Linked DNA regions of Homo sapiens. The protein of the gene in region 1 interacts with the protein of each later gene in a biochemical or structural test. Each region holds a gene or a part of one and is shown on either strand. Other genes may lie near its edges. The genes, in order: CTTN, MAP4K5, WASL and ARHGAP17.

Region 1 (8,441 bases):
TGATTTTTCTCTCTCTTTTTTTTTTTGTTTTTTTTTGTTTGAGACGAAGTCTCACTCTGTTGCCCAGGCTGGAGTGCAATGGTGTGATCTCAGCTCACCGCAACCTCTGCCTCCTGGGTTCAAGCGATTCTCCTGCCTCACCCTCCTGAGTAGCTGGGACTACAGGCACCTGTCACTACACCCAGCTAATTTTTCTTTTTCTTTTTTCTTTTGAGATGGAGTCTCAGTCTTTTGCCCAGGCTGGAGTGCAATAGTGTGATCTCGGCTCACTGCAACCTCCACTTCGCAGGTTCAAGCGATTCTGGTGCCTCAGCCTCCTGAGTGGCTGGGACTACAGGCATATACCACCACGCCCGGCTAATTTTTTGTATTTTTTTTTTTAGTAGAGACGGTGTTTCACTGTGTTAGCCAGGATGGTGTCAATCTCCTGACCTCGTGATCTGCCCACCTCAGCCTCCCAAAGTGCTGGGATTACAGGTGTGAGCCACCATACCCGGCCAATTTTTCTATTTTTAACAGAGATGGGGTTTCCCCATGTTGCCTAGGCTGATCTCGAAACTCCTGGGCTCAAGCAATCCACCTGCCCTTAGCCTCCCAAAGTGCTGAGATTACAGGTGTGAGCCACCGAGCCTGGCAGAAGAATGTTTTAAATGACAGGACAGAACCATCCGTCCACCATCAGCTTTCCATTAGCCTCAGCATCTATGGCAGAGCAGGAGGAGAAAGGAAACAGACACTTGCGTAGCCAAAATCACCATCACAGGCACACTCCCTACACCACACTTACTCAAGGGAAACCCCGCCCCCAACATTTACTCCGTTTACTCAAAGCAGTGCGTGAGCAGATGGGGTGGGCCTGGGCCACAGTGAAAGCCAAGCCTGCTCCTGGAGCACAGTCCCCTGCTCTTGGCTGGCCCAGGCCATGGGAATACTGCAACACAAGGCAGCAACCAGCGCTCACAGCAATTCACACTCTCAGGACACCTTTTCTGAGCACCTACTGCGTGGCACAGACTGAAGATCTGAATTGCCGATTATGTGTGCTGTCATTTTAAAAGTGTTTTAAAAACAAGTCCATCAAAATGCTACAATTAAAAGTCAGCTTTAGCTGGGCCTGCAGTCCCAGCTACTTGGGAGGCTGAGGTGGGAGGATCGCTTAAGGCCAGCAGTTCAAGGTTGCAGTGTGCTAGATGGCACCTGTGAAGAGCCTCTGCACTCCAGCCTGGGTGACAGGGTCTCGCTCTGTCACCCAGGCTGGAGTACAGTGGTGCGATCGAGCTCAATGCAGCCTCCAACTCCTGGGCTTGAGATCCTCTGCCTCAGCGCCCCAAGTAGCTAGGACAACAGGTGCAAGCCAACATGCCCAGCGAATTTCTTTTTTTGTAGACACAAGGTCTCCCTGTGTTGCCCAGGCTAGTCTGGAACTCCTGGCCTCAAACGATCCTCTCACCTTGACCTCCCAAAGTGCAGGGATTACAGGTGTGAGCCACCGCACCCCTGCCCCAGGTCAAAAGAAATTTCTTTTCAGTAAGATATAGCAGAAGGTTAGCTTCTAGTTCTAGGGGACCTAATATCAAAACAACCCTGCCTCCCCAACTTTTTATTGAGTCCCACTTAAAAGACTCTTCCTTGTTCCTTGAGTATCTGGCGAATACTTCTCTAACCAGAGGAGAAACAGGACTGACTCAGTGCTCTGGAGCCAGTGACTCACCCACACGGTCAAACACGTGAATGGAGACAGGGGCAGGCGGCCAGCCCCTCCTGCGCCACGGCCTTGGGCCCGGCCGGGCTTGAGGGCTGGATCATGCCTGAAGGACCTAGTGGGTGAAGTCCCCCCGACAGAGCCTGCGCAGCCAAGTCAACACTGAGCCCAAAGGGAGCGCATGGGATTCCAGGGAGCGCTCACCGGATGCCTCCGGAGCTTCCTTCAGCAGAAAATGAATTCCTCCCCAAGGGGCCCCAAACGTCCACAGATTCCAGCGGGAGGAAGCCCTGTCCCTTCTCACCCAAGGCCTTCCAGCTTCAGGGATCAGGCATCCCTTAGACTATCCAGGTGATGGAAACGTAACAGAAAGCCCCAAAGCACCGTTCTGGTGATTTTAAACACACCCCGAAGGAGGGACGGTTCCAAATTTAGAGCCTCACGACTAGCTGCAGCCGCGCCTCGCTGCCTCCACTGACCTGATTGCAAAACCTCCGCTCAGGTGCAGGCCGGGCGGATCCCCAGCTGCTCCGCCACGTCCCACAGCGAGCCCCTCAAAGTCGCGCACCCCAACCGCCTTGACCCCGCGGACCCCATCCCTTTTCCCTGCGCCTGGATCCCTTCCCCTGGAGCCCCAATCCCCTCCCCTCGGACCCTATACCTTTCCTCCGAGCCCCGACCCCTTCCCCTCGAACCCCAATTCCCTTCCCTCGGACCCCATCCCAGTAGCTCTGCGCCTGGACCCCTTCCCGTCAGACCCCAATCTCCTCCCCTCGGACCTCATCCCTTTCCCTCTGCACCCAGACACCTCCCTCTCAGACCCCTCGCCCTTTCCTTGAGACCCCCCACACCCACCTTCCTTGGCCCCTCGAACCCCGGCCCCCTCCGCTCAGACCCCCGAACCCCACAGGCCCAGCCCCTCTCCCTCGGGCCCTAATACCCTCCCCCTCGGAGCCCATCCCCCTCTCCTATTCCCTCGGACCCAAGACCCCTCCCAGCCTGGCCCCTCTCCTGCCCTGGAGCCCCCCGGCGCCCAGGGACCCTCCCCTCAGAGCTGATACCCCAATTTGGCCCCTTTCTAACCTTCCTCCGCGGACCCCAGCCCCAAGCCCTCCGTGCCCCCTTGCCCCCTGCCCGGCCTCCTTGGGCCCAGACCCGTCCTCGTGGCCCTCGCGGACCCCCGGCCCTCGCCCTGCCCCGCCCCAGGCCGGGAAAGCCTCGCCACTCTGCCCCGGCCCCCGAAACCGCAAGCGGAAGAGCGGTGAGACCGCTGCGGCCGCCGCTTCCTTCCCCTTTCGCGGCCAGGCGACGCCACAGGAGGGAAGAAGCAGAGCCCGGCCTGCACCCCGGGCGGACGCCGCGCTCGCTCACCGCCGCCTGGGGTCGGTCCGGCCCGGGTCGGCCCTGGATTCCGCCGCGCCAGCCGCTCCCAGGCACCAGGCTCTACTTCCGGTTCCGAGGGCGGGGGCGGGGCCGCATCCGGGTCCCCGCGCGACCCCGCCCCCTGCCCCGCCTCCTCCCGCGTCTTGGCCCGCAAGAGTCCCGGGGGTCCGCCCGCAGCTGGCTAAGCGCTAGCCCGGCCTGTGGCGAGTCTGCAGAGCTCGCCCGGAAGTAGCGTTGCGCGCGCAGAGGATGGGCGCTGAGCAGCACACAGCCCGCGGCGGGGTCTCAGGATCCGCGGCGCTGCCCGGGGCCGGGGGAAGGAAGCCAGCCGAGGAGACGCACGTGCCCTGAGTCCGGGAGCGGGGAGCCTCTTCATCTCTCCATCCTCCCTCCGCGCGCGCCCTCAGCCGTCCTCGTCCGCTCACCATGCACCTCCCCTCCAAGAAAGGGCCACATGCGTGCCAGGGACGCGAGCCCCGGCCACAGGGACATAGCAGCCTAGAAGGTGAGTCAAGCGTTAAACCACATGGGTACTCACCTGGGAAATGAGATAAATGCCAAGAAGTGAGAGTTTCATAACATCGTATTGGGGAGACGGTAGGACCTGAACCCCTGGGAGACCAGAGGTTTCTTTGGGCGATTCACATGTTAGCCAAGATGTGAAGGCCCTATAAGAGTAAACAAGGTAAGGAGGGAAGAATTTTCCAGGCAGGCCAACAGCAGGTTCCAACAGCAGGGCCAACAGAGGTCCCAAGGCAGGAACGGTCTTGCAGCAGGGGAACTGGAGGAGGCTCAGCTCAGCATGGTAGAGGGCTAGTGGTGCAGCGGAGCTGTGGTGTGAGAGGGGCCAGGTCATGCAGAGGCCGATAGAGCACAGCGAAGACCTCGGTCTTTATTCTGGGAGACACGGGAAGTCCTCGGAGGAAGTTAAGCTGATAAGAGACATCATGAAGTTTGGGCCAGGCGCAGTGGCCCACGCCTGTAATCATAACACTTTGGGAGGCTGACATGGGAGGATCGCCTAAGGCCAGGAGTTCGAGACCAGCCTGGTCAGCATAGTGAGACCCTCGCCCCCGCCCGCCATCGCTAAATAAATAAATAAGACATAATGAAGTTTGAATTGTAATGAGATCACTCTGGCTGCTGTGTGGAAGATGGATGGGAGAAGGGCCAGGTAGAGCCTAATGTAGCCAATTCGGGCAGACCGCTGGTGGCAGGTAAGATGGGGAGAAGTGGATAGATGCAAGAGGCATTTAGAAAGCTAAACTGTCAGATGTGAGGATGAATTGGAAGTGCGGGTGGCGGAAGGAAATGTCAGGTGTTGACCATTTTTTTAAAGGTAAAATCATGACCTTCATACACATATAAAATGAACACGTCAAATATTTTATTTAACTCGATAATGAATACATCATAAGTTGTTACAAATTGTTTAAAGAATTTGGCCAGATGCAGTGCCTCGCGCCTGTAATCCCAACACTTTGGGAGGCCAAGGCAGGAGGATTGCTGGAGGTCAGGAATTTGAGACCAGCCTGGGCAGCATGGCAAGACCCTGTCTCTACCAAAAAAAAAAAATTTTTTTTAAGAAAAAAATTAGCCAGGCATGGTGACGTTTACCTGTGGTCCCAGCTATTCTGGAGGCTGAGGCAAAAGGACCGCTCCGGCACGGGCAACAGAAACCCTGTGTCAAAAAAAAAAAAAACGGAAGACGAATGCTGAAATGAATTTGCAAAAACTGCTCTATCTCTAGTGCAAAGGTCAATTGCATTTAACTGGACACAGCTAATTTGCATTTTCTGTGCACAAGGATTGTTGGCCAGGCTTGTAATACCAGCACTTTGAGCGGCAAGGCCAGAGGATTGCTTGAGCCCAGGAGTTCAAGACCAGCCTGGGCAATATAGACCCCATCTCTGAAAAAAAAAATTTTTTTTTTTACATTGCTGACTGTTTTTTTTTGTTTGTTTGTTTAATCTTTAGAGACAGGGGCTGGAGTGCAGTGGTGCAATCAAGGCTCACTGCAGCCTCGATCTCCTGGGCTCAAGTGATCCTCCCACCTCAGCCTCCCAAGTAGCTGTAGCTGGAACTACAGGCACGTGCCACCACACTCAGCTAATTTTTTTTTTTTTGAGATGGAGTTCCCCTCTTGTTGCCCAGGCTGGAGTGCAATGGCGCCATCTCAGCTCACTGCAACCTCTGCCTCTCGGGTTCAAGCAATTCTCCTGCCTCAGCCTCCCGAGTAGCTGGGATTACAGGCGTGCGTCACTTTGCCTGGCTAATTTTGTATTTTCAGTAGAGACAGGGTTTCTCCATGTTGGTCAGGCTGGTCTCGAACTCCCGACCTCAGGTGATCCTCCCGCCTCGGCCTCCCAAAGTGCTGGGATTACAGGCGTGAGCCACCATGCCCGGCCTCTAATTTTTTAATATTTTTGTAGATACTGGGTCCTGCTGTGTTGCTAATGCTGGTCTCGAACTCCTGTGCTCAAGTGACCCTCCTGCACTGGGATTACATGTGTGAGCCACCACATTGCCAGGCCACATTGCTGCCTGTTTTTTAAAGGTTAATTTCTGCCTCTACAGAGGTATGAAATCATCTAGTCAAAAAAGCAGGCATAGCCGGTGGTGTCCATCTCAGAGGGAGCCCTGTGACTGTATTGATCCAGCACAAACCCCTCCTCTCAAGTCCCTCACTGTGTCACACCTTTTGCCATAAGAGGTCATAGTCATAGGTGCTGAGGATTAGGCTGTGGACATATCTTTGGGCGCCCACGGAAATGTTCTTATTTCTATTAAAATTGGAAAAATGAACTTTTAGGTTGAAGAAAATGTATTTTATTCAAGAAAACATGTAAAGAAAATATAGCAGCCAGGCGCGGTGGCTCATGCCTGTAATCCCAGCACTTTGGGAGGCCAAGGCAGGTGGATCACCTGAGGTCAGGAGTTCAAGACCAGCCTGGCCAACATGGTGAAACCCCGTCTCTAAAATTAAAGTACAAAAATTAGCTGGGCTAATTTTACAGAGAAGGAAAGACAAAGCTCACTGCAGACTTTTCAGCAGGAGGGCAGCGTTCGTGGCTTAGAAAGACCAGTCTGCTGCCGGTGAAGAGCAGGGTGCTTCAGAGTGGCTCCCAGAGAGAAAGGGGCAGCACACTCTTCCACATGCCCATTGTGCTCCCCAGGAGAATGTGTGGCAGAGACTGAGGCTGGCCACAGGAATTACACATACAGTGTAAAATTTGCAAAGCAAGAAGTATAGCTGTGCTCAAAAATAGGTCGAAGCCGGGCGCCGTGGCTCATGCCTATAATCCCGGCACTTTGGGAGGCCAAGGCAGACGGATTTCTTGAGGTTAGGAATTTGAGACCAGCCTGGCCAGCATGGTGAAGCCCCATCTCTACTAAAATTCAAAAAATAAAAACAAAAACAAAAACAAAACTGGTGGCTGGGCGTGGTTGCTCACGCCTGTAATCCCAGCACTTTGGGAGGCCGATGCAGGTGGATCACTTGAGGTCAGGAGTCCGAGACTATCCTGACCAACCTGGTGAAACCCCGTCTCTAATAAAAATACAAAAATAAGCCAGGCATGGTGGCAGGCGCCTGTAATCCCAGCTACTTGGGAGGCTGAGGCAGGATAATCGCTCAAACCCGGGAGGTGAAGGTTGCAGTGAGCTGAGATCGCGCCATTGCACTCCAGCCTGGGAGACACAGCGGGACTCTATCAAAAAAACAAAACAAAACAAAACAAAAGTGATATCTCTGTGAGCCAGAAATGAAGAGAAATGCAAAGTGCTGAGTGGGCCTGCAACTGCAAAGCTGCTGGGCCTGGGTCACCCACGCTTGTAAAAGAAGCACGCAGCCAGGGGCGCACCAGTGGTCCCAGCTACTTGGGGAGGCCGAGGTGGGAGGAATCACTTGAGCCCAGGAGTGCAAGACCAGCTGGAGCAACATGGTGTGAACCTGTCTCAAAAAAATAAAAATAAAGAAAAATTTTAAAAACCCATGCAGCCAAAGAGGGATGTCCAGACAGCCTTATGTCCAGGACCTGAGCAAACCAGTCCCTGACTTAGAGTGCAGATGGGACCTGGGGCATTTGCACCACCACGCAGGGCTGTAGGACTCAATACAACACGTGTGACGGAGATGTAGCTGTCCACCCAGCGCCCCCACCCTCCTCGGTACTAAGTGGACATGTGGGTGTCCAGCTCTACTACATTTCCCAGCTTCCCTTGGAGTTGGGAGCTGCCATGTGGCCAGGTTCTCGCCCATGGAACATGAGGGGAGGTGACATGCATGGCTTCTGAGCCTGGACCATCATTCCTCCCCGGGGCTGCCTCCTACCGTGGACCAGCTTCCTAGGCTGCTGCAACACATTATGACAGACTCAGTGCCTCAAAACAATGCAAATATATGCTCTTCAGCTCTGGAAGCCAGAGTCTGAAATCAGTTTCATGGGCTAAAGTCAAGGTGTCAGTGGGGCTTGTTCCTTTTGGAGACTCTAGGGGAGGAACCATCTGTGGCCTTTCTAGCTTCTTGCATCCCTCAGACCCATGCATTCATCTTCACACCTGTTTTCTCTCTGTACGGATATGTCTCTTTGCCTCCCTATTACAAGAACATTTGGGATCCCATTTCAGACCCACCCAGAATATCCTCCCATCTCAAGATCCTTAATGTCATGACATCTGCTAACTCCTTTTTGCCATGTAAAGCAACATCACATGTTCTGACTATTAGGATGCAGACATATTTGGAGGCCATTATTCAGCCTACTACAGGTGACAGGTACAACCTTGGAAGCCCTGTTTTGAGGATGGCAGAGCCCACCAGCCTGCATCCCTCCAAGACTGCGTGGAACAGATCTTCCTTACTATCCCTTTCTCCTCCTCTGCCTGACCTGGACATACACCCTGCCCTGTTACGTGAAAGCAAAAGAAAATCCTGTTGTGTTTAAGATATTGCGTTTGGAGTCCATTTGTTCCAGATGTTTAGCCCACCCTAATACAGAGAGGTTGAGGCAACTGCAGAACAGGGAGACAGACAGCGTCACACACAGTGAGGAAGAGAGAAAATGAAACATTTCCTAATTAAAATGAACCTAGAATGTAAGTTCCAAAGGGATTGTAAAAATGAATACTAAATAAGAAAGCCAAAGGCCAGGCACAGTGACTCATGCCTATAATCCAGCACCTTGGGAGGCCGAGGCAGGTGGATTGCTTGAGCTCAGGAGTTCAAGACCAGCCTGGGCAACATAGTGAAGACCCTGTGTCTACAAAACTTTAAAAAAATTAGCTGGGTGTGGTGGCCTGTGCCTACAGTCCCAGCTACTTGGAAGACTGAGGCAAGAGGATCAGCTGAGCCCAG
Region 2 (7,489 bases), on another chromosome or scaffold:
TTATTTTCGCAGTGACCTTATACAACATTTAACATAACATTTATTTAATAAGAAATATAATTTAAAGTTTTTGAAGGACAATCCTTCCTCTCTTATTTTCTACTGTTAAGCTATTTTTCCAAGTTATTCACTCTCTCACTCAAATATGAAAACCAAGAGTCTCTCATAATGTCAGACACAGGACACAAAAAGGACAGTATATTCATATAGTTCAGCTGTGTTACTATCAAAAAATAAGAAAGTAGGTGATGTTTTGATATCAAATGTCAGAGAAATAACATCACATACATCTATTTTTTATTACCTTCAGATTTTTAGGCATTGGACTAGACTCTTAATATTTAAAGATCAAAGTATACTGGTGGAGAGAAGACATAAGAAACAGCTACATTTTCTTTGCTTACAAATTCATGCTTAAAAAAATAACATAAGACTTGGTAACCTACAACCAACTGCTGAACTTAATTAAAAATCACAATGGGCTGGGCGCAGTGGCTCACACCTGTAATCCCAGCACTTTGGGAGGCTGAGGCGGGTGGATCACCTGAGGTCGGGAGTTCGAGACCAGCCTGACCAACATGGAGACATCCCATCTCTACTAAAAATACAAAATTAGCCGGGCGTGGTGGCCCATGCCTGTAATCCCAGCTACTAGGGAGGCTGAGGCAGGAGAATCGCTTGAACCTGGGAGGTGGAGGTTGCGGTGAGCTGAGATCACACCATTGCACTCCAGCCTGGGCAACAAGAGCGAAACTCTGTCTCAAAAAAAAAAATCATAAATAAATAAAAATCACAATGACCTGTGGTCCTGCACCAGTCAATAAGGCATGGTGATGGCCATGCTTGTGTCTTAGATAATATGCCTGCCCCTAAGCTTAGAATTCAGCTACAGACACAGGTTCCGGTGACTCAATAAGAAAGAGATTTAAGACTTCCTTTGATTACCCAGTTATCCACTTGGTTAACTCCCTAATGCCCTTCAAGTCTGTTCAAATCTAACCTTTTCAATGAGGCCTACCCTGACCATCCTTATATAATTCCCCAACCTGCCTTCTTCACTCCATTCAGGCATTCCTGATCCTCCTTAACCATTCAACCTTTTCTTCTTTCTATACCTTTAATCTCCTTGTAACGTATTATACAATGTGTTTATTATGTTTGTTGTCTCTCTCCCCCCACTAAAATTTGAGTTCCATGAGGGGAGGAATCTTTGTCCGCTTTGTTCACTAGATGTATCACAAGGCACCACAACAGTGTCTGCCCCATAGGAGGCCTTCTATAAGTATTTGTTGAATGTTAAATACTCCTTTGCATCCTGTCCTCCCAGTTCTCCATCCCAGCTCCCATTCATTAACATGCCTCACTCTAACCATGCTCGCAGTGGAACAACTAGGACTGGAAATAAACAAACAAGGCTCCAGATCAGAAAGGGAGGGAGGTTTTTACATTTATCCCCTACTCTAGTCCCTAAAAATCCATCCTATGTTTTTTCCTTTTATCTGCTTTCTGAATTCTCAATTCCTCCCAAATTCTTTGTCTTGATTTCCTTCTCTGTAGAATTCCATCTCTAAACTCAGCAATCGTCTTAGACACTTGGGTGATACGACAAACTTAAAGAATGGTAACTGAATGCTGTAATCACTCAGTCTTGATGAAAGTAAAACCCTGAAACAAGAAGAAACATTTGTGTGCCTCATTTCTCTTTCCTGTCATAGCTAAGCTGCTTCAGAGAGCAGGCTACATTCCCTCTACTTCCTCACTTACCAATCATACCTCAACTCTACTCTTAATGAACCCTTCCAACTCCTTGCTTACATGACCACTATGCTGCTTACTCCTTCAAGGCATATTTATTGACCACATACTATATACTAGGCAATATACTAGTACAGGTGTTTCAACAGTAAACATAAGATCTCTGTTCTCATGCAGTTTTAGTCTACCAGGAAGACAAGCAAAAATGAGAAGTGATAAATGATGAGTATCATGATAAAAAATGTACATGGAGCTTTGAAAACATACAGCTGCTAGGTGTGACCTACTCTAAGGGACAGAAAAGCCCCCCCACCGAGAAATGTAATGTTTAAACAGAAACCCAAAGAGTAGGCGATAAGATGGAAGAGAAAGAGTGTTCTAAAGGAATACCTGCAAAAATCTGAAAGACAGAGAGTAGAGTGCATATAAAGAACTGAAAGTTCAGTATGGATACGGTATTGGGATAAGCAGGGCCTTAACAGGAATATTATTCTAAGACTTTATTCTACAGACAAAGGAAATAAAGGAGAAATGACACAAAACTTCAGATTTATATTTTTTGGAGAATGAATTCATCTTCCTCATTGCAGTTAGAGCAAACAGGAACAAGAATGGAGGCAGCTGATGATAGAGATCATCTCTTGAAACTTTTCGTTCCTATGAAAAGAACTTCCTCATACCGCTTTGTTTCTTCTCAGACACCTTCAATATATTATTTTTCTCTGCCACCCCTCTAAGGCTACAGCCTTTCCTCAGCTCTCCTACAAACTCTCCTGGGTGACCTCACCTATATTTCACAGGTACCACCCCATAAAGTGATGATGACTCCCAAACCTGTATCCCCAGTCCAGAACTCTCAAGGCCAGAGGTGCATTTCCTACCACCTACCAGACACATTCACCTATGCAATGCCTTATGTTCAAAACCAAACACAAAATCCAGACTCCACATATTTGGTATTTCCTAACTCTGTTGATAGCATCAATGTAGTCACTCAAGCCAGAAATTCTAAATGCCATCAATTACCCTTCTCCTCCTGCCCCTCACCGATTACCAGGTGTTTTTGATCATCTTCTAAATATGACTCAAATCCATCCCTTCCTTTCATCTTCTATACCAGGGCCTAAATTTAGTCTTGCATAAACTCTCATCCGGATTATTCGGGAACTGGTCTCTACATTTCTAGCCACTTTGTAAAATCCTTACACTACACTGTAAGATATTTCCTCCTAAAAAGTGTTTCTCTAGTCCGGGCACAGTGTACTCACACCCTAAAATCCCAGCACTTTGGGAGGCAGAGGTGGATGGATTGCTTGAGCCTCCGAGTTCAAGACCAGCCTGGGCAACATGGCGAAACCCCACCTTTACAAAAAAATAAAATAAAATACAGAAATTAACTGGGCATGGCAGTGTGTGCCAGTCCCAGCTACTCAGGAGGCTGAAGTGGGAGGATCACTTGAGCCTGGGAGGCGGAGGGTCTAGTGAGCTGAGATCATGCCACTACACTGCAGCCTAAGTGAAAAAGTAAGACCCTGTCTCAAAAAAATAAAAATAAATAATTGAAAAGGTCCAAATTCTTTGATATGACACATGGAGTCCATTAGCTGGTGTTTCCTGCCAGAAAATAGCCTCTATTCTCCATCTATAAAATAATAAAAATAAATAATTGAAATGACATCTCTGCCAGATGTCACACTGAACCTGGAATGAATACAGATGCAGATCTCTCAAAACTCATCACGGCTTCTCAAGCCTCCAGGTGTTTGCACATACTATACCCAAAGCCTGGAATATCTTTTCCTATCTTCTCTACCTAGAAACCACTGGTCTTCTTTTAAAAATCCAGTTAATGTTCCTTCCTCTGTTAATCTTCCTTGGTTCACACTCCTCTCTCTCCCTTCCTTCATCCCCAATAAAGGCAGAGTTTGGCATTTCTTCCACTTCTCCTCTATGGCACATAATTTTCTACCAAATTATGACTGCTTACATGTCTGCTTTCTTTTTTCTTTTTTGAGATGGAGTTTTGCTTTTGTTGCCCAGGCTGGAGTGAAGTGGCGCAATCTCAGCTCACTGCAACCTCCGACCCCCGGGTTCAACCAATTCTCTTGCCTCTCCCAAGTAGCTGGGATTATAGGCACCTGCCACCATGCCCGGCTAATTTTTGTATTTTTAATAGAGATGGGGTTTTGCCATGTTGGCCAGGCTGGTCTCAAACTGCTGACCTCAGGTGATCCACCAGCCTTGGCCTCCCAAAGTGCTAGGATTACAGGCGTGAGCCACTGCGCCTGGCCACGTCTGTTTTCTTGACTAAACCATATGTTCCTTATTGACAGTGTACTTCATCTCATGTTTGCATCCCCATATCCTAACACATTGTCAGCACTCAACAAATACTTCTTTAATGAATGAATGCTTCTAGAAGTGTGATGATACATTAAGCTTTGTCTCTATAAAATGGGATCTTGGGATATGTTTCAAAGTGCCTAAAGCCATTCCAGAATGGTGACTCTTGGCTGGAGGAAAAGAAAGTAAAGGCATACATAAAGGAGATTCCCCATAGCAGACCTAATTCATCTAGCATCCAGAGGAACCCACGTTAGTGATAAGACTACATGACAAAGACTTCTACGCAAATTATAACATCATTTATAATTGCAAAAAAAAAAGTTTAAAAACTAGAAATAACAAATATGCAACTTAGAATGATTAACTAAATGAAGGCTCATTCAACGGATCCTTTAAAAATAGTACTTTTGACTGGGTGTGGTGGCTCACCCTGTAATTCCAGCACTTTGGGAGGCCAAGGTGGGCAGATCACGAGGTCAGGAGATTGAGACCATCCTAGTCAACCTGGTGAAACCCCGTCTCTACTAGAAATACAAAAATTAGCTGAGTGTGGTGGCACATGCCTGTAATCCCAGCTACTCAGGAGGCTGAGGCAGGAGAATCACCTGAACCAGGGAGTCAGGAGGTTGCAGTAAGCTGAGATTGCGCCACCGCACTCCAGCCTGGCGACACTGCAAGACTCCGTCTCAAAAAAAAAAGTACTTTTGTATGATTACACCACTGCACTCTAGCCTGGGCAAAAGAGCAAGACCCTGTCATCCAAAAAAAAAAAAAAATGTACTTTTGTAGAATATTTAACGACTAGGGAAAATGCTGGTCATTTCAATCAAACAGAAAAAAGACCTGTATCATATTCCCAATCATAAATTAAATATAAAAGCCATTTTGGAAATACTGATTTAAAAACATTTAGGAAATAAGCCTGAAATAAACTGTATTAAATTATTAGCAGTACCTATCTCTGAGTAATTTTCTACAACTAATTTGTTCAACAAATATTTATTGAGCATTTGTTTGTTACATTACAAAGATGTGCAAGAGACATCTGTTTCTGTCCCCTGGGAACTAAACATGTTATTCTTCTATAATCAATCAGATAAAGCAATAAAGCTTAGAAAAAAATTCATAGGATTGCCCAGTCTAAATTTATATTCTATGAAAGGTAAAATAATAATAATAATAATAATAAATAAATAAATAAAAATAAAAATAAAAAGCCAGATTGCCAGAACTTCTCTGAAATCTAGGCTGGAAGCAATTTTGATACAAATATTTGGATAAGGGCTGCCCAAATGGCTTGTACTACTGATTATGAACTGTATCATGATGCTGTAGTTGTTATAGATCCTTGTGGTCAGAGGTAGTTGAGAATCTAAATCTCCAGATTTATCCTTCCTGCTGGCAGATCTACATTTTTACAGTAATTACAAATAAAAGCTGCTCAGTTGACATTTAATCCTTCATCCACCATCCACCAAATTCCTTTTCTCTTCTGTGTTTCTTTTCCCTCTACCATTTCCTGCTCTTGCCCTCAATGATTCACTCCATTTATCTAAAAGAATCTTTATGTTCCTCCTCTTCTTTCAACCAAAGAACAGCCAATATAAGATTGAACTCTCCCTCTTGGGGATTCTCAGGAAAGATGGAAGCTTCAGAGGGGATCTGTGGTATTGATGAACATAAAAGTAAATTACGAAGAATCTCAAAGCCAGAGTCCTTTAAAGCTTCTGCTTCAAAAGATACCTAAGGTGTAAAAAAAAAAAAAAAAAAAAAGGCAGGGAAAAATCCAGGCTTGGTGGCTCACACCTATTAATCCCAGCCCTTTGGGAGACTGAGGCAGAAGCATCACATGGGGTCAAGAATTTGAGACTAGCTTGGGCAACACAGGAAGACCCTGTCTTTACATTAAAAAAAAAAAAAATTAGCCAGGCATGTTGCCACACACACTTGTAGTCCCAGCTACTGAGGAGGCTGAGGAGAGAGAATCCCTTAAGCCCAGGAGTTCAAGGCTGCAGTGAGCTGATCGTGCCACTGGACTCCAGCCTAAAGCACAAGACCATCTCTCAAAAACACAGGGGGATATTATCTGAGTAGAACAGTGGCTAATTTACCTTCATTATTCTTTACTGCAGGTATTTCACTAGTTTATATCCTACATTGAAAATACTTCTAAAACGTCCTAGGATGTTCAGCTCATCAGAAACACAGTGATAAATAGCAAAATTACTCTAATTGCCCAGAGCTTAAAAAATTCAGCACTACAGTTTCAGGTTATGTGTTTTTAGGCATACTAAGGAGTAAATTTAAACTGACAAAATTCTATAGGACTTAGATCACTGATAGTGGATATACTATAAAATAGTTTTTCAGAAATATTTCCCCAGAGAACTCAAATAGATGAAATTTGTAATAAAAATACACACGCAGGGTATCATTAGACAGCATCACAGGGCCGGATGTGGTGGCTCATGCCTGTAATTTCAATACTTTGGGAGGCCGAGGCAGGCAGATCATTTAAGCTCAGGAGTTCGAGACCAGACTGGGAAACATGGCAAGACCTCCTCTCTACTAAAAAAAAATACAAAAATTAGCCAGACATGGTGGCACACACCTGTAGTGCCAGCTACTTGGGGGGCTGAGGTGGGAGGATCACTTCAGCCCGGGAGGTTGAGGCTTCAATGAACCAAGATCACACCACTGCCCTCTAGCCTGGGGGACAGAGCGACATCCTGTATCCAAACAAACAGACAAACAGAAGGCATTACAGGAATACATAGAGTATTAAATGCTAACTTAGTGCTATGATGTCAAAAGCATGTGCTCAGAGAACTAAGTGACAGAGTCTGATATTCATTCATTCATTCATTCATCAAATTTTTAGGAAGTACTTACTCTGTGGCAGGCATAATCAGAGACAGAGCAGTGAAGAGATTAAAATCCCTGCCATCATGGAGTATTTTAGTGAATCAAGATAGATAATAAACAAGAAAAAAATAAGTAAAACATTATGTTGGTGATAAGTACAAAGCAAAAAATAGAGTAGGAAAAAAAGATCGGGAGGATGTGAAAAAAAGGAGGAAGGGAGCAAGCCATATAGTGGGGGGCGGTGGTGAAGGGGAGACATTACGAAGAGAGGAAATAGCAAGAACAAGGACCCAAAGATGGGGAGATGCTTATCATGTTTAAGGAGCAGCAAGCAGGCCAGTGTGACTAGAGCAGAATGACTAAGGAGAGTGGTAGATGAGGCTGAGAAATAAGAGGGAAGGGCTGTCTTGCCCAGGAGCATTTGGGTAAGGCTTTCATGGACAGGTATTACAGCAACAGGTGGAAATGGAGGGGTGGAAGGTGATTCCAAGTAATTAGAACAAAGGAAAACAAAAGACAAGGA
Region 3 (7,489 bases), on another chromosome or scaffold:
GAATATTTAGTCCTTTGGCTAGCAAGGGGATTTTCATAATGGGATTTCAGACCCTATTGAATAACTTTTTTGTGTGTGTGTGTGAGCTGTTACTTCTTGATTTCTGGTAAAAAGCGAAGTAGGGAGATTTTTAGATCTTCATTTTGGTACATCTAGTTTCCTAATTGCTATCTTTTTAGAAATGAATGTATTTTGACAGCACCATACTAAAAAAGACTTTATGCGAATTCTCCTTAGAACTAACAAATTGCTTGTTTGATTTTTGCATTCTTCAGCCTGGTATTTGGTACCTTTAGATAGTGTATGCAAGACGCATTTTTCTGAAGTTTTCAGTGCTGGCAGCAGGATGCCTGTGGCACTATCATCCTGAGATTGTGCACTTGCAAACACAAGTGTGTTTTGAGCAGGCCAAAAAGTGTCCCACATTCTTCAGTCTCCTCTTTGAAACCCAGTGTCCCAGGATACACATTTTTTGTTTTTAAGTTATCATAATTTTTATTGACTCTTGCAGAAATTTTTCTGTTCCTTTGTGTCCTACTCAGTACTGTATGTGAAGTTCAAGGTTGAGTTTGGTCTGTAATGTTAAAAACATAACATTGAACATTGTTATCTGAGCAAGTCTTTATGGACTTTTGATCCTAACAGTATACTGATCTTACATTTCTGAATTTAGTATCTAATTATAAAAGATTTGTGCATATAATTGTTCTTTGAAATTCCTCTTACCAAAAAAGGGCACCCCTCAGGCATAGTTCAGTAAACCTAAAACAGCATATCTTCAAATCTTAATGTAGTCTATTTTTTATTACAGAGCCCAAATTCCGTTGAACTAAGGTACCATAATTACTTAATCAGCTCCTATTTTAGGTTATTTCAGTTCTTCCTCTTTAAAAAAATATATATTTATATGAAATATTTTATTTTTATATTTATATTAAAATATGAAGTATTATATTCTAAATGATTTTCTTAATTTCTAGTTTAGAAGTGAAATTACTTTATCAGAAAACATAATTATGGCTTTCAGAGGATTTGTAAGTGCTTTATCAGTGTAAGTGTGTATCACTTTCATAGAAACTTAAGGTTGAATAGTTACATTCTAGGTTATAAAGTAAACTTAATTTAGAATAAAATTAGTTTACACCTTTTCATGATATAGTCTTGAGGAAGGGGGCAACATGGTGTACTGGAAAATCCTAATGCCCTGAAGTGTCCATTGCATGTAACGAGTTAGCTTCCCTCCTATACATCTGAAAGGGTTCTATTTAGGGACTATCCTTGGTAAAATTGAGACAATAGTCACTCAAATCTTTTTCATATCCTCAGTATAGCATTAAAACTGCGTGGCCACTTGTGCAAATCACTTACAATCTTAAACTCACTTTAGAAAGGAGATACTATAATCTGCCTTCCAGGGTGGTAATACTGCTTTCAAGTTTGTCTCAATCCTTATCTAGATAAGTGCTTAACTGCTTTATACAAGTCAGCCATTACTAATGCTACTACTTCATTGCTTAAGTGTTCACTTTATTGGGAAACAGTGTAATAGGGGGAGTAAGAATGCTAGATTTGAAGTCACAAATTGCCTGGATTTGGAATTTCAGCTCTGCCATTTAGCTGTGTGGTATTGGGCAAATTAACCCCTTTAGTGTCGGGTTTCTCAAGTAAAAAATGAAGTTATCATAGTAATAACAAATGAGGCTATATTTAAAAGTGATTAACACATTTCCTAACACATTTTAAGCATCAATAAATGTTTTCAGTAATTATTGTTATGTGATTATTGTATTAGTTATTTATTACTACATAAGAAATTACTTCAGAAACTAGTGGCTTAAAATAACAATACATGTTTATTATTTCCTTGTTTCTGTGAATCAGGAATTTAGGAGCAGCTTAGCTGGGTGGTTGCGGTCAAGCTGTCAGCAGGGGCTATGATCATCTACATATTATTTTGAACCTAATGGTTATAAATTTTATATTTTGCAGACTATGTCTTCAGCAGTGGTGCAGTTATATGCAGCAGATCGGAACTGTATGTGGTCAAAGAAGTGCAGTGGTGTTGCTTGTCTTGTTAAGGACAATCCACAGAGATCTTATTTTTTAAGAATATTTGACATTAAGGTGAGTTTTGTTTTGCTTTCACTTTAAACTAGGTGATTAGGTTTTCTATATCAATTATAATTTAGTTTAGATTTGTTTATCCTATATGTGATATTTAAATTTATACATAAACTAATATTAGAAGAGTGAAGCTTGGTTTTTAGATATTGCATACGGAAATCATGACCAAATGGGAACATGTCTGAAGCCAGAATGTGAATAGTTTCCTATTTTATCTTTCTCCTGCTACCACGCATTAAGGCTTTTTTTTTTTTTAAATTATGCCTGTTGGTTCTTGGGCTTTCTTTACACTCTGTATTTTTTTAATGAAACTCTTTTATTCCACCTGGTTCATTATAGAATAGCGTAGATAGTCTGTTCAGGTAACAACAAAATAATATTTTAGCTCAGTATGTACTGTTATTTAGCCCAGGTTTAAAACATTTCAATATCTATAAAAATCTGTTTGCTACTCATTTTTCCTTATATTGTTTCTCATGATAGATATATTCAGATTTTCATAGCTTTATATCCCTCCCTTCCAATCATAAATCACATTGTTATAGATTGAATACCTTGTTAGGTATTCATTTCTTACAGTTGTCATAAAAATATTTTGCTAAGATGAAGTCTCCATTATTTTTTTAAAAAACCTTTCTGTAAGTAAGCCTCCATGATTAATATTTATATGTGGCAATAAGTGCAATGAGATTTTAATTACAAAAAACTAAAACTGCCTTTAAACTCTTGGGCGCTAATATGACCTGATAGATAACAGTGAAGAGATTTTTACACCTCTGGTCTCAGCTTTATTTGTAAAATCAGATAACCATCTTGGTTTGTTATGAGGTATTTCACTGAGATTAAATGAGATCTCAGTTATGGTATTTGGTAAATTAGTGCTTCTTTTGTTGTTGTTGTTGTTGTTTTGAGACAGGGTCTTGCTCTTGCTCTGTCACCCAGCCTGGAGTGCACAGCTTACTGCAACCTTGATCTCCTTGGCCCAAGCAATCTTCCCACCTCAGCCTTCTGAGTAGCTGTGACTACAGGTGCATGCCACCACACCTGGCTAATTTTTGTATTTTCTTATAGAGATGGGTTCTGCTGTTTTGCCCAGCCTGGATTCAAACTCCTGGACTCAAGTGATCCTCCTGCCTCAGGCTCCCAAAGTGCTGGGATTACAGGCCTGAGCCACCAGTCCCGGGCTAAATTAGTGCATCTTAATGTCTGCTTCCAAGACAGCTGAGAGATATGACATGCTTCTGTCACTAGCAGTGGCTTACTAGTAATCACTAGCAGTGGCTAACTATGGCAGTGATTCTGGGGGGTGGGGAACACATACGTAGTTTGAAAGAAACCCCCAAGTGCTTTGACATATTTCTCATAACCATTGAGAAGCACTATTTAGAAATGGCATACACTTACTACTCCACTAAGAAGAAAGGGATTCCATTGCAGTGGTTATAATGTGTGAACAGTGTATTTTACATATTTTTAAATTGTGGTCTAGGTAGAACCTTGCATTTCTGAATAGGGCAATGACTATCTTTCTCTAACCACTTATTTCCAATTGCTGGACACTCATAATTCGTCACCTTTGGTATTAAGATTAAACATATTTTTTATACTATGGCAATAGATATGGCAGCCATCATGGCACTCTTATCCATAGTTTAACCTTGATACATTTTAATTATCAGTCTCTTTCTGCATCATGATTAATACTACTTATACTAGTATATAATTAGAAAGGTACTCTGCAAAAGTTAAGAATTTGAAGATGGTTAATTAGCAGTACAAGGAAGGTATATTTGACCCTCCCACATCTATAAAATTGAGGAAAAGAACATAAAGTATTCCTGCAGTGTTTGATAGTACATTGTCTAAATATTGCTGGTGGAACTGTGCTTTGGTAATCAGTTCATGTACAAAAGTATCCTATTCCTTCTATGTAACATTGATGACCTAGTAATTATTCTGGTTATTATGTATTTGACCAAGTAGCTGAATTTGGAAATGGTTGGCTAGTGAGATTATATCTTAGCTGAATTAAACTGACTTGATATGTAGGTTTTATGAAAGATACGTTATCCAGTGTTTTCAGTTTTAAGAAATTACTGATTAGATTATGTGACACTATTTATATATTATAAATATGTTACATGTGTGCATTAAAAGTTATTTTTAATATAAACAGTTTTCTTAATATGAGTCATCTTCTTTGTTTTATTCCTAGAGATTATGTTTTGGTAGTTCTTATTTTAATTTTTAACTTTTTTCTAGGATGGGAAACTATTGTGGGAACAAGAGCTATACAATAACTTTGTATATAATAGTCCTAGAGGATATTTTCATACCTTTGCTGGAGATGTAAGTCATATTTTTCTTTATTGCCATCTTTACTTTTTTCATTGCTTGCCTTTTCTAATCCAAATTATTTATAGAACCTTATTGAAAGATCAAATTCAATTTGCTATTTTATTTTTTTGCTGAAGATGAAATATTCAAATTAGTATATGTGTCTGCTGTGATAGGTAACTTCTCTAATAGTAATCTTTTACTTGAACTTCTTCATGCTTTTGTGTTAAGTTATTCAGATCATAAAATAATGTCTTATCTGCTAGTAAAATTAACCTTTCGTTCTTTAGAAATATACTTCTTTTCCTCATTGTTTTTATGATATAAAGCTAAATTCATACATTCTGTTGTTTCCCCTTTGTGATGAAAATATTTCAGACTTGTCAAGTTGCTCTTAATTTTGCCAATGAAGAAGAAGCAAAAAAATTTCGAAAAGCAGTTACAGACCTTTTGGGCCGTCGACAAAGGAAATCTGGTAACCCTTTTTTAATTACTTAAATCAGGCCAGCAAACTAATGCTCATGGGGCAAGTGTGGTCCATTTCCTGTTTTTTGTAAATAAAAGTTTACTGAAACTTAACTGTATTCATTGGTTTACATGTTGTCTTTGGCTATTTTTTGTCACAACACAGTTAAATAGTGATGACAGTGATATATGGTCCTCAAAGCCAAAATTATTATCTGAAATATTTACTATTTACAAAAAAATTTGGTGGTCCTTACCTTAAAATAAATAATATTTTTGTTGAGAACTATTTTTTTTAGATTTACCGAAGGGCCCAATACAATAACCTTTTTTGTTGATAAAATTTCATATATATTGACTTTTAATTTTGCATTTGTGATAGCATTTTTTGTAAAGTTTTAAAAGTATTTTATACTTTGTAAACAAAGACTTTAGGTAAGCTTAGAAGCAAATAAGCAGAGTTGCTAACAAGATCTGTAAACATTGCCTTGTCTTTCTATTTTGTTCCTAATGCTATATACTATAAAACCCATAAGGAACTTAGTTTAGTGTGTGAAACAACTCTAACACATATAAAACAATTATAGAACAATGCAGGATAGTATAAAGCTTTAAGTTAATTGGAGTAGAACTATTACTTGACAACAGTGAACCAGGTGTTTCTCTTGTAAAGTGGAGAAGGGTGACTAGGAAAGGGGAACCTCTCCAAAATCATCTTAAGCAGATGAGTTTCAGAAGAAAGAACATGTGCTTTCATCCAGTCCTATAGTTCCAAAAACTGTATGCCAATGACTCTCAAAGTTTTTTCTTCAGTACTGACACATCTTCCCTGACCTTCAGACTCTGTCTACTCAAGTGGCAGAATAGCCTTTAGACTTAACACGGTCTGAGCAGAATATTTGATCCATGTCCTGTATCCTGAACCTTAGCCCCACTCAGATCTGTTCCTATTCTTCTACTAATCTTCCTTGTTTCAGTAAAAGGCATTTGTTCCATCTTATCCCTCAGGCTCACCATGGTCCCTCATAAATCCTATCAGAGTCCTATTGACTCTGCCTTCAAAAACATGTCCTGTCTGACTATTTCTTACCATTTCTGCTGCTACCATCCTAATCCAGGCCACCATGATCTGTCAGCTGGGCTGCCACACTAGCTCTCTGACTGGTCTTCCTGCTGCTACTCAATCCTTTTTACTATCTCTTTTCTATACAGTAGCCAGAGTAAACTTTTAGAATTGTAGATTAGGTTATATCACTTTCTCTATTTAAAATTCTGTAAGAGCTTCCTATCATATACACATAAAATCTATAGTCCTTAACCATGGCCTGTGGAACCCTACATGATCTAGTCCCTGACTTTCCTTCTTGTCTCCTTTCACTGTGCCATTTGCTCACTGTAGTCCAGTCTTCATGATGTTCTTTCATGTTGCACCCTCCTTGGGGCCTTTGAATGTATTGTTCCCTTACTTATTTTATTTAGATCTCTACTTAAATGTCGGGTCTTCTGAAAAATCTTCCTTAGTCACACGTATGTCAATTTAGGAATAAGACAGTTTAGTGAATTAATTTTTTTATGTTGATGTTGTCTTACATATATTTAATAATATTCTTCTAATTTATTTTCTAACAGAGAAAAGACGAGATCCCCCAAATGGTAAGCTTTTTGACAATTATTAATCTTTTAAGATTTTAGATGACAGTTTAATCCTTGTGGAAACATGTACCATACATTAGTAATATTTAGTATCTTTTACATGTTAATCCTTGTGGAAACATGTACCATACATTAGTAAGTAATGTTTAGTATCTATGATCAAATTATACAGTTTATTGTGTTCCTATTTTTAATTAATGATTGACAGATGAGACTTAGGAAACAATATTCTTTGATATTTTTCTAACATGAAGAAAGAATACATAGGGTGAAGATCACTAATACTTATTATATTTTAATTCTGGATTCACAGTTGACTAAGTATACAATCGGACCTTAACATTTTTCCTAGAGGCAGTACATTTTGTCTAGAATATTTGTTAATGTCCTACTTTAAGATTTACCTTTCATTCTTATTTCAAAATATTATTTCACATTGCTTATGTGTTATATGAAGCCCCTTTCAAAATGAACACCTACTGTTGTGGTGTATTTAGAACTAATTTAGCTCTGTATAATGCTCTTTAATTTGATAATGACCACTTGAAGTATTATGAATTCATTTTTTAAAAAACATTGAATACCAGAGAGTAAAAGCAGAATACCAGGATGTAAAAGATAAGGTCTCAGGGGTAGAAATTCTTACTCTAGACTTCATAAACTCCCTGAAATTGTGTGCTAAATATGTTCTTTTCTCTGGAGAGAGAGGATCCATGGCTTTCATCGTATTTAAATGAGGTTCCTGACTCTATGAAGGTAAAGAATCATTCTCCAGCACACTTTGTTATGATAGAGAAAATGGCTGCTTTTTAAAAGCATATCTCAAATCCTCTTATCAGAACCTAGAATGATTATTCAAGGAAAACTTACATAATACAGAGTTCTTAATATATGACAGCTATTGGTGATT
Region 4 (7,489 bases), on another chromosome or scaffold:
TGCTTTGCTGCGTTAGAGGTAGCCATGGCAGGCAGCAGTGAGGGAGTGGGAGGAGGAGGTGGTTTGTGGGGGCGTTTCACAGTTAGGCTTGAGAGCTGCTTTCCCCTACTTGCTGTGGTGCAAAATGACATCCTGTCTGTCCTTGACGGGAGCTAGTTTTGACTATATTTCTGTTCGACCTGCTCCCGTCTACGCAGGCACAGCTTGAAAACGCTGGTGCACTTTGGGGAAGCTCACTGCTTGGAGACTTGTTCCAGCTCCTACCCCTTCCACCTTCCTGTCCCTACAGTTCTGAGCTGTGAGATCTATTTACTCCCTGGGACACCCTTTTTCTCACAGTTACTCCTGGGTTGTCCCTCAAGGTTTCCTATGCACCACAACTCAGAGAAATTTCTAGATTTATGGAGGTGCCAAAGTGTCAAAGAGTTCAGGTGCTGAATGTCATTTCAGACAATTCAGGTCTTGTGATAACTATAAAACCAATGACACTGTGCAGAACTGCACCAGCCTATGGTGCAGCCAAAGGTGGTCTGTATGCACAGAATAGGGGCTGTCTTGGATTTGTCCTAAGCAGAACAGAAGTCAACGAAGGCAGGGACTGTGTCTGTCTTGTTCACAGTGTATCCTCAGTACCTAAAACAGTGACCGGCAAATAGCAGATGTTCAAGAAATTTTGTAGCTGCACACTTGGATGGTTGGATGGATGCATGAAGAGTCATCTAGAGCAACCATCTTTCCAATCCTCCATTCTTACATCCTCAGGCAAAGAAGTAGCTGTGACTTGAAGACGACGTATAAGAAAATCACTGCAAATGCAATCCTTTCCCCATTATCTTGGCCCCCAAAAACAGAAGGGGCTACCAGCCCGTGTCTCTTCTCAGCCCAGAGTTTACCAGAAACTATGGAACCGACATGACTTGGCGGGGAATGCATGATGCAAAGGCACTGTGTATACGGATGAGATTTCTACTTGTTAATATCTGTATTCACATGCAAGCTAACGCCTATCAGCCACCAAGCCCCTCCACAGCTGCTCTCTTTTTCTTATACATCACATATACATAATTTTTAGATTTGTGCCTCTCTGAATTTTTCTATTTATGATCCACACACATTATTAATTCAAGGGGAAAAAATGTGTTTTGGGGCATAAAGGAAATCCCTTACTCTGCCGCCCACCTGCCCCATCTGGTTTCCCCAGCCCCTCTCTATTCCTACATGAATCAGTCCCTGAAAGAAACAATGACTTTGTTTACACACAAAAAGTAGAAAGAATTACGGCAACCTGTACAGAACCAGTTTTCAGAAAGAGACTTCATCACAGTAGCTAACATTAAAAAAAAAAATTTTTTTTTTGAGATGGGGTCTTGCTCTTTTGCCCAGGCTGGAGTGCAGTCGTGCAATCTCAGCTCACTGCAGCCTCCACCTCCTGGGCTCAACTGATCCTCCCACCTCAGCCTCCCGAGTAGCTAGGACTACAAGCATACGCCACCATGCCTGGCTAATTTTTTTTATTTTTGGTAGAGACAAGGTTTCACCATGTTGACTGGGCTGGTCTTGAACTCCTGGCCTCAAGCAATCCTCCCACCTCGGCTCCCCAAAGTGCTGGGATTACCAGCATGAGCCACCACACCCAGCCTCAGTAGCTGACATTACTATAGAGCACTTACTTACACCAGAGACTGTACTATACACCCACACTTTATTACATCGTCTCACTGAACCCCCACTAACTAATCCTAAGGCAGCAGAAATAAGAAAGGGAGACTCAGAGGCTCTATTCCTTGCCCAAGGTGACACAGCCAGTGTGGACCAAAGAGGATCAAAGCCAGATTGGTTGCACTCTGGCTCTTCGCATTACATTTTCCCTCCTCCCCAGAGGAGTCTGTAAATCCCTGGGTGAGGGCCTTCAAAGACATTATCCAAGATCATTGTTTCAGTCTTACAAACACTCTGGTTTGTTGTAAAAAGGAGAAAATGGTTATTTCAGAAAGACACCTGTAAGAACCTGGTTTGTCTGAAACACCTCTAAATCTTTCTGGCTATGAACTCGTATATTAACTGCACTCCAAGAAGGGCTGGTTTCTGAGCATATGCTTGGAGCTAAGTTCATACAAAAGATATTGTATTTAAAAAAACAAAATAGGCTGGGCGTGGTGGGATGATGGTGTGAGCCCAGAAGTTCGAGACCAGCCCAGGCAACATGAGACTCCGTCTCTATAAGAAAAACACAAAAATTAGCCGGGTGTGGTGGTGCATGCCTCTAGTTCCACCTTCCAGCTACTTGGGAGATTCGCTTGAGCCCAGGAGGTCAAGGCTGCAGTGGACTGGAATCACACCGCTGCACTCTAGCCTGGGCAACAGAGCAAGACCCTGTCTCTCTTTTTTTTAAAAAAAAAAAAAAAAAAAAAGAGAGAAACAGAGGATGACCTCCAGTAACCAGCCTCAGCCCAAAGGCAGAACTTGATACAGTTCATCTCAGATTTGGGGCTCTGACAAATGTAACCCAGGTTCCTTCCTGCACTGAGTATCTCATCCAGGAAACAGAAGTGGGTATTTAAGAGCTAGAAGTGGAATGTTATCACTGAGGGTAAGGTTCTAGAAGATTTACTTATTACTTCAACAATTTTGAATATGTGCTTTCTCGGTTGTGAACTCACCCTTCAAGAAGTCCAAGGTGATTCTGATAGCCACTTTGACAAGTAACAGATCCAAATATGCCCTTGAAAGTAAGTGGTGCAGGCACAACTGCAGGGCGAATAAACTCCCTCCCCCTCTCCACCACCCATCCCTCTTCTCAGACCTAGAGTCTCAGGGAATGCCTTCCTTCACCAGTGAACGGTTTGAGTCTTAAACACTCTGGTTGATTGTTGTAAAAAAGAGATAAAGGTTATTTTAGAAAGACACTTGTAAGAACCTGGTTTTCTTTAAACACCTCTAAACGTCTCTGGCTATGAATTTATATATTATTTGCATTCCAAGAAGGGCTGGTCTTTGAGCATACTGCTTGGAGCTAAGTTTATATGACAAGTATTATATTTCAAAATTAAAAAAAAGCAAAAAATCAGACAAAAAAGAAACCTTTTATTGGAGGTCTCTTTTCTGTTTTTTTTTTTTTTAAATAAAATATCTACTGTATGAACTTAGTTCCAAGCAATATCCTCAAAGACCAGCCCTTGGAAGGCAGAGAATATATAAATTCACAACCAAAGAGGTTTAGGGTGCTTTTAGAAAGCAGGTTCTGGCTGGGTGTGGTAGCTCATGCCTGTAATCCCAGCACTTTGGGAGGCCGAGGCAGGCAGATCACCTGAGGTCAGGAGTTCAAGACCAGCCTGGCCAACATGGTGAAACCCCGTCTATACTAAAAATACAAAAATTAGCCGAGCACGGTAGTGAGTGCCTGTAATCCCAGCTACTCAGGAGGCTGAGGCAGGAGAATCGCTTGAACCTGGGAGGTGGAGGTCACAGTGAGCTGAGATCGCACCACTGCATTCCATTCTGAGCAACGGGGTAAGACTCAGTCTCAAAAATAAAAAAAAATAAAAAAAAAAGCAGGTTCTAACAGGTGTCTTTCTAAAATAACCTTTTTCTCCTTTTTACAATGTAATACCTGTCATATAAACTTAGCTCTAACCAGAGTGTTTAAGACCCAAACCATTATTTCCTCAGATAATGTCTTCACTTTCAGGATCCTCACCCAAGGATATACACAACTCTTTTGGGAAAGAGGGAAAATGTTAGGGTGATTAAGAATGATGGGGCCAGGTGCGGTGGCTCATGCCTGTAATCCTAGCACTTTGGGAGGCAGAAGTGAGTGGATCACTTGAAGTCATGAGTTGGAGACCAGCCTGGCCAATATGGCAAAACCCTGTCTCTACTAAAAATACAAAAATCAGCCAGGTGTTGCCACACCTGCCTATAATCCCAGCTACTTGGGAGGCTGAGGCAAGAGAACTGCTTAAACCAGGAAGGCAGGGGTTGCCGTGTGCCAAGATTGCACCACTGCACTCCAGCCTGGGTGACAGAGCAAGACTCTGTCTCAAAAAATACACAAAATAAATAAACAGAAGAATGACAGTCCAACCAATCTGGCTTTGATCCTCTTTGGTTGAAGTAGAATTGTGTAATTTTATCAGGAACTGATGATTTCTCGTCAGTTTTCTAGGGCTATTAGAGACTCTGAGTCAACTATTCAGGAGTGATTCTGTTCAAGTCTCACTGGATGTTATCTTGACACAATTCTGATTATCTACTTATTAAAAATAAACTGCAAGTAGAAACAGAAGCCACTTAAATATCCAACTAGGAGTAATAATACATCTGGTTGATGAAACATTATGTAGTCACTGAAAAACATGGTTCTAAAAATTACATTATCACATGAGAACGAGCATATGATGTAAAGTGAAATAAAAGGATCCAAATCTGTCTATGTCAAATAATTATGCTCATGTACCTCCTTGCCTTCTAGAAAAACTAAAAGAAAAAAAGGGGCGGGTGTGGTGGCTCACGCCTGTAATCCCAGCACTTTGGGAGGCCGAGACGGGCAGATCACAAGGTCAGCAGATCGAGACCATCTTGGCTAACATGGTGAAACCCTGTCTCTACTAAAAATACAAAAAATTAGCTGGGCGTGGTGGTGGGCGCCTGTAGTCCCAGCTACTCGGGAGGCTGAGGCAGAAGAATGGTGTGAACCCAGGAGGCGGAGCTTGCAGTGAGCCAAGATCGTGCCACTGCACTCCAGCCTGGGGAACAGAGTGAGACTCCGTCTGAAAAAAAAAAAAGAAAAGAAAAGAAAAGAGAAGAGAAGAGAAGAGAAGAGGAGAAAAGAAAAAAAGTAGAATATAAATGGCAGACTTTTTCAATTGTATAGCTACAGTTGATTTCTTATTATTTCCATTTCTCAAGAGTTTTAATATCCATGCTTATTTTTATTTATTTGAGACAGAGTCTCACTCTGTCACCCAGGCTGGAGTGTAGTGGCACGATCTCAGCTCACTGCGACCTCCACCTCCTGGGTTCAAGCAGTTCTCCTGCCTTGGCCTCCCAAGTAGCTGGGATTACAGGCACCCACCACGACACCCAGCTAACTTTTTGTATTTTCAGTAGAGATGGGGTTTCCCCATGTTGGCCAGGCTGGTCTTGAACTCCTGACCTCAAGTGATCCACCCGCCTCAGCCTCCCAAAGTGCTGGGATTACAGGCGTGAGCCACCGTGCCCCAGCTCATGCTTATTTTTAAAAAGGCATTACTTACATGACATAAGAAGGGTGAGAGTTTAAAAAGCAAACACTATGAAATTAGCCAGCAAAGTGTCCAGGCTTATGGCTACTTTGTGAGTGATTTGGTCTATCTGTGGTACAGTGGACTAACGCCTCACAGACAGTCTCAGGCTCACTAAATTATATGAATGTATATGTTATCTCCTTCTGCAGAGCATTGTCTTTTTAACCCATGAAAGAAGTGAGATTCAAAAAACCAAGTGGTGCATCAGAATCAAAATATGGATACCTGGGTTCCACCCCCAGTCTCCTGTGTTTGGGTCCTAGAAGGCCGGGTCCGGGCGTATGAGTTTTTAAAACCCTGATATGTGAATCTAACATAGAAATCTGATTAAAACTATTTTCTTCTAGATAAAAATGATAAATAGCAGGCCAGGCACAATGGCTCACACCTATAATCCCAGCACTTTGGGAGGCTGAGGAGGCCGGATCACCTAAGGTCAGGAGTTCGAGACCAGCCTGGCCAACATGGTGAAGCCCCGTCTCTACTAAAAATAAAAAAAATAGCCAGATGTGGTGGCAGGCGCCTATAATCCCAGGTACTCAGGAGGCTGAGGCAGGAGAATTGCTTGAACCTGGGAGGCGGAGCTTGCAGTGAGCCGAGATTGCGCGTATATTAAGAACTGTAACTGGCTAACAGAATAATCTTGGACTTTCTCTTATTTCATCTTCAACAATTTAGACAGATGTCACCACTTTACAGATCAGCCAGGTTGTGCCTAGCCTATGTTATACCAAGAGCTGAAATTCTAACTCAGTCAGGTCTGACTCCATAATGTGTGTTCTTCCTACTATACCTCAAGCTTGCCTGATATGGAAAAGAATGGAAATTAAAGAAGTAACAAGGACAGCCCTGTGACCACCTGTTCCACATCTGGGTACACACTTAGTATTCCGAATCATTGCAGCAAGCATCAACAAAGCCAGTCCTCCTTCAGTGCATGCACTATTAGTAGGGATGCAAGCAGGCAGGGTTAGGGTGGCCAGTTAGTAACAGGCATGAGTGCACAAATATGATCATCAAGTAGCAAAAATGCATTGGCCAATCAGGTGCCTTTTCCTTACCATTAAATATTCCAATCTCAGTTCTTACTGAATATGGCAGGTCATACATCTAAATTATTTAATAAAATGTTTAAATTAGAATACTCTTTGCTAAAATCTATTACTTCAAAAATAGCAAGATGTAAACTCTTTTACATGGGAATTAAAACTCTTACTGCTCTCTAGAGTCACAATTAACAGGAGACTCAAAATGATGCCAGAATGCCGGCATCCTCCAGTGCTGGTGCTGAGCTGTGAGAAGTTGGCTGCCAAACCTGCTTGGCAGCAATAATCTCCCCCCAAGAGTTTATCTTAATCCCATTAGCCTTAACCCAACTCTTTAAAACTCTAACTTAATCCAATTCTAAAGGAATAACCTGTTTTCAGGAATTTGTCCATCTAAAGTTTTCTAAGTGAAAACATTATGTCATAATAAAGGACCATCCTGTCCAAGGAAGTTATATATTTTTTCCTCCTTGAAAAACCCAATGGCTACATCCAAGAATGGTTAATAGCAGTATGATCAATACTAGCAGATTAAAAAATTCTAAATGTTGGCCTTCTGTGTACTTTCAGTGGGAGGCCAGGGGATTTTAAGATAGTACAGGTTAATTCTGTAATACAAAGATAACTCTGGTAACCTGGAATTTCTTGAGTTAGGAGAATTCATAGCATAGACCGGTTTTTAAATAGCTAGTATCTTCGGGAAACACATTTTTAATGTAAAATTTCACTTATCTAATAATTACAGGCAGTATATTACAGTGTTGTAGCAGATCAGTAAACTAAACTTGTGGAATAAATACACCCCGGGTAACAATGGTATTAAAAAATAGGCATAATTCTGGTTTGCAATCTTTCATTTAAATAAAAGGAAATATCTGATAATAACATTTTGGTGTGTCACAAGCATGAAATTGTGGAATCGCACCCGGGCCTCCTCCCTGTTTTGAAGGCTACACTCTGGTTTTCCACTTACGGTTCCTACAGAAAGTCTTACTCAGACCTAAGCTGTGAGCACTCTGGCTAAGGGGCCCACAGTAGGCCTAAGGCTCAGGCCAGCTGATTAAAGCAGCTGTACATATGATGAGGGCCTTATGCTGTCCACATGTAGACCCAGCGGCAGACTTAGATGAGCTCACAGTGCCTTTTAAAAAGCTCATA

Evidence for each region.
Region 2: the proteins of CTTN (region 1) and MAP4K5 form a complex in vitro, tested with the Homo sapiens proteins (one study listed by BioGRID).
Region 3: the proteins of CTTN (region 1) and WASL interact in far-western blotting, tested with the Homo sapiens proteins (one study listed by BioGRID).
Region 4: the proteins of CTTN (region 1) and ARHGAP17 form a complex in vitro, tested with the Homo sapiens proteins (one study listed by BioGRID).

Annotation. Positions count from the first base shown.
Region 1 is NC_000011.10:70,393,247-70,401,687, reverse strand, and holds the start of CTTN (src substrate cortactin), read right to left. Parts: upstream 3,160-8,441; 5' UTR 3,074-3,159; intron 1-3,073.
Region 2 is NC_000014.9:50,522,550-50,530,038, forward strand, and holds part of MAP4K5 (mitogen-activated protein kinase kinase kinase kinase 5), read right to left. Parts: intron 1-7,489. UniProt on the Homo sapiens protein: May play a role in the response to environmental stress. Appears to act upstream of the JUN N-terminal pathway.
Region 3 is NC_000007.14:123,703,724-123,711,212, reverse strand, and holds part of WASL (actin nucleation-promoting factor WASL), read left to right. Parts: intron 1-1,989; coding exon 1,990-2,124; intron 2,125-4,386; coding exon 4,387-4,473; intron 4,474-4,839; coding exon 4,840-4,936; intron 4,937-6,555; coding exon 6,556-6,579; intron 6,580-7,489. UniProt on the Homo sapiens protein: Regulates actin polymerization by stimulating the actin-nucleating activity of the Arp2/3 complex. Involved in various processes, such as mitosis and cytokinesis, via its role in the regulation of actin polymerization.
Region 4 is NC_000016.10:24,921,338-24,928,826, forward strand, and holds part of ARHGAP17 (rho GTPase-activating protein 17), read right to left. Parts: intron 6,396-7,489; coding exon of another isoform or gene 6,388-6,395; exon of another isoform or gene 6,347-6,387; intron 1-6,346. UniProt on the Homo sapiens protein: Rho GTPase-activating protein involved in the maintenance of tight junction by regulating the activity of CDC42, thereby playing a central role in apical polarity of epithelial cells.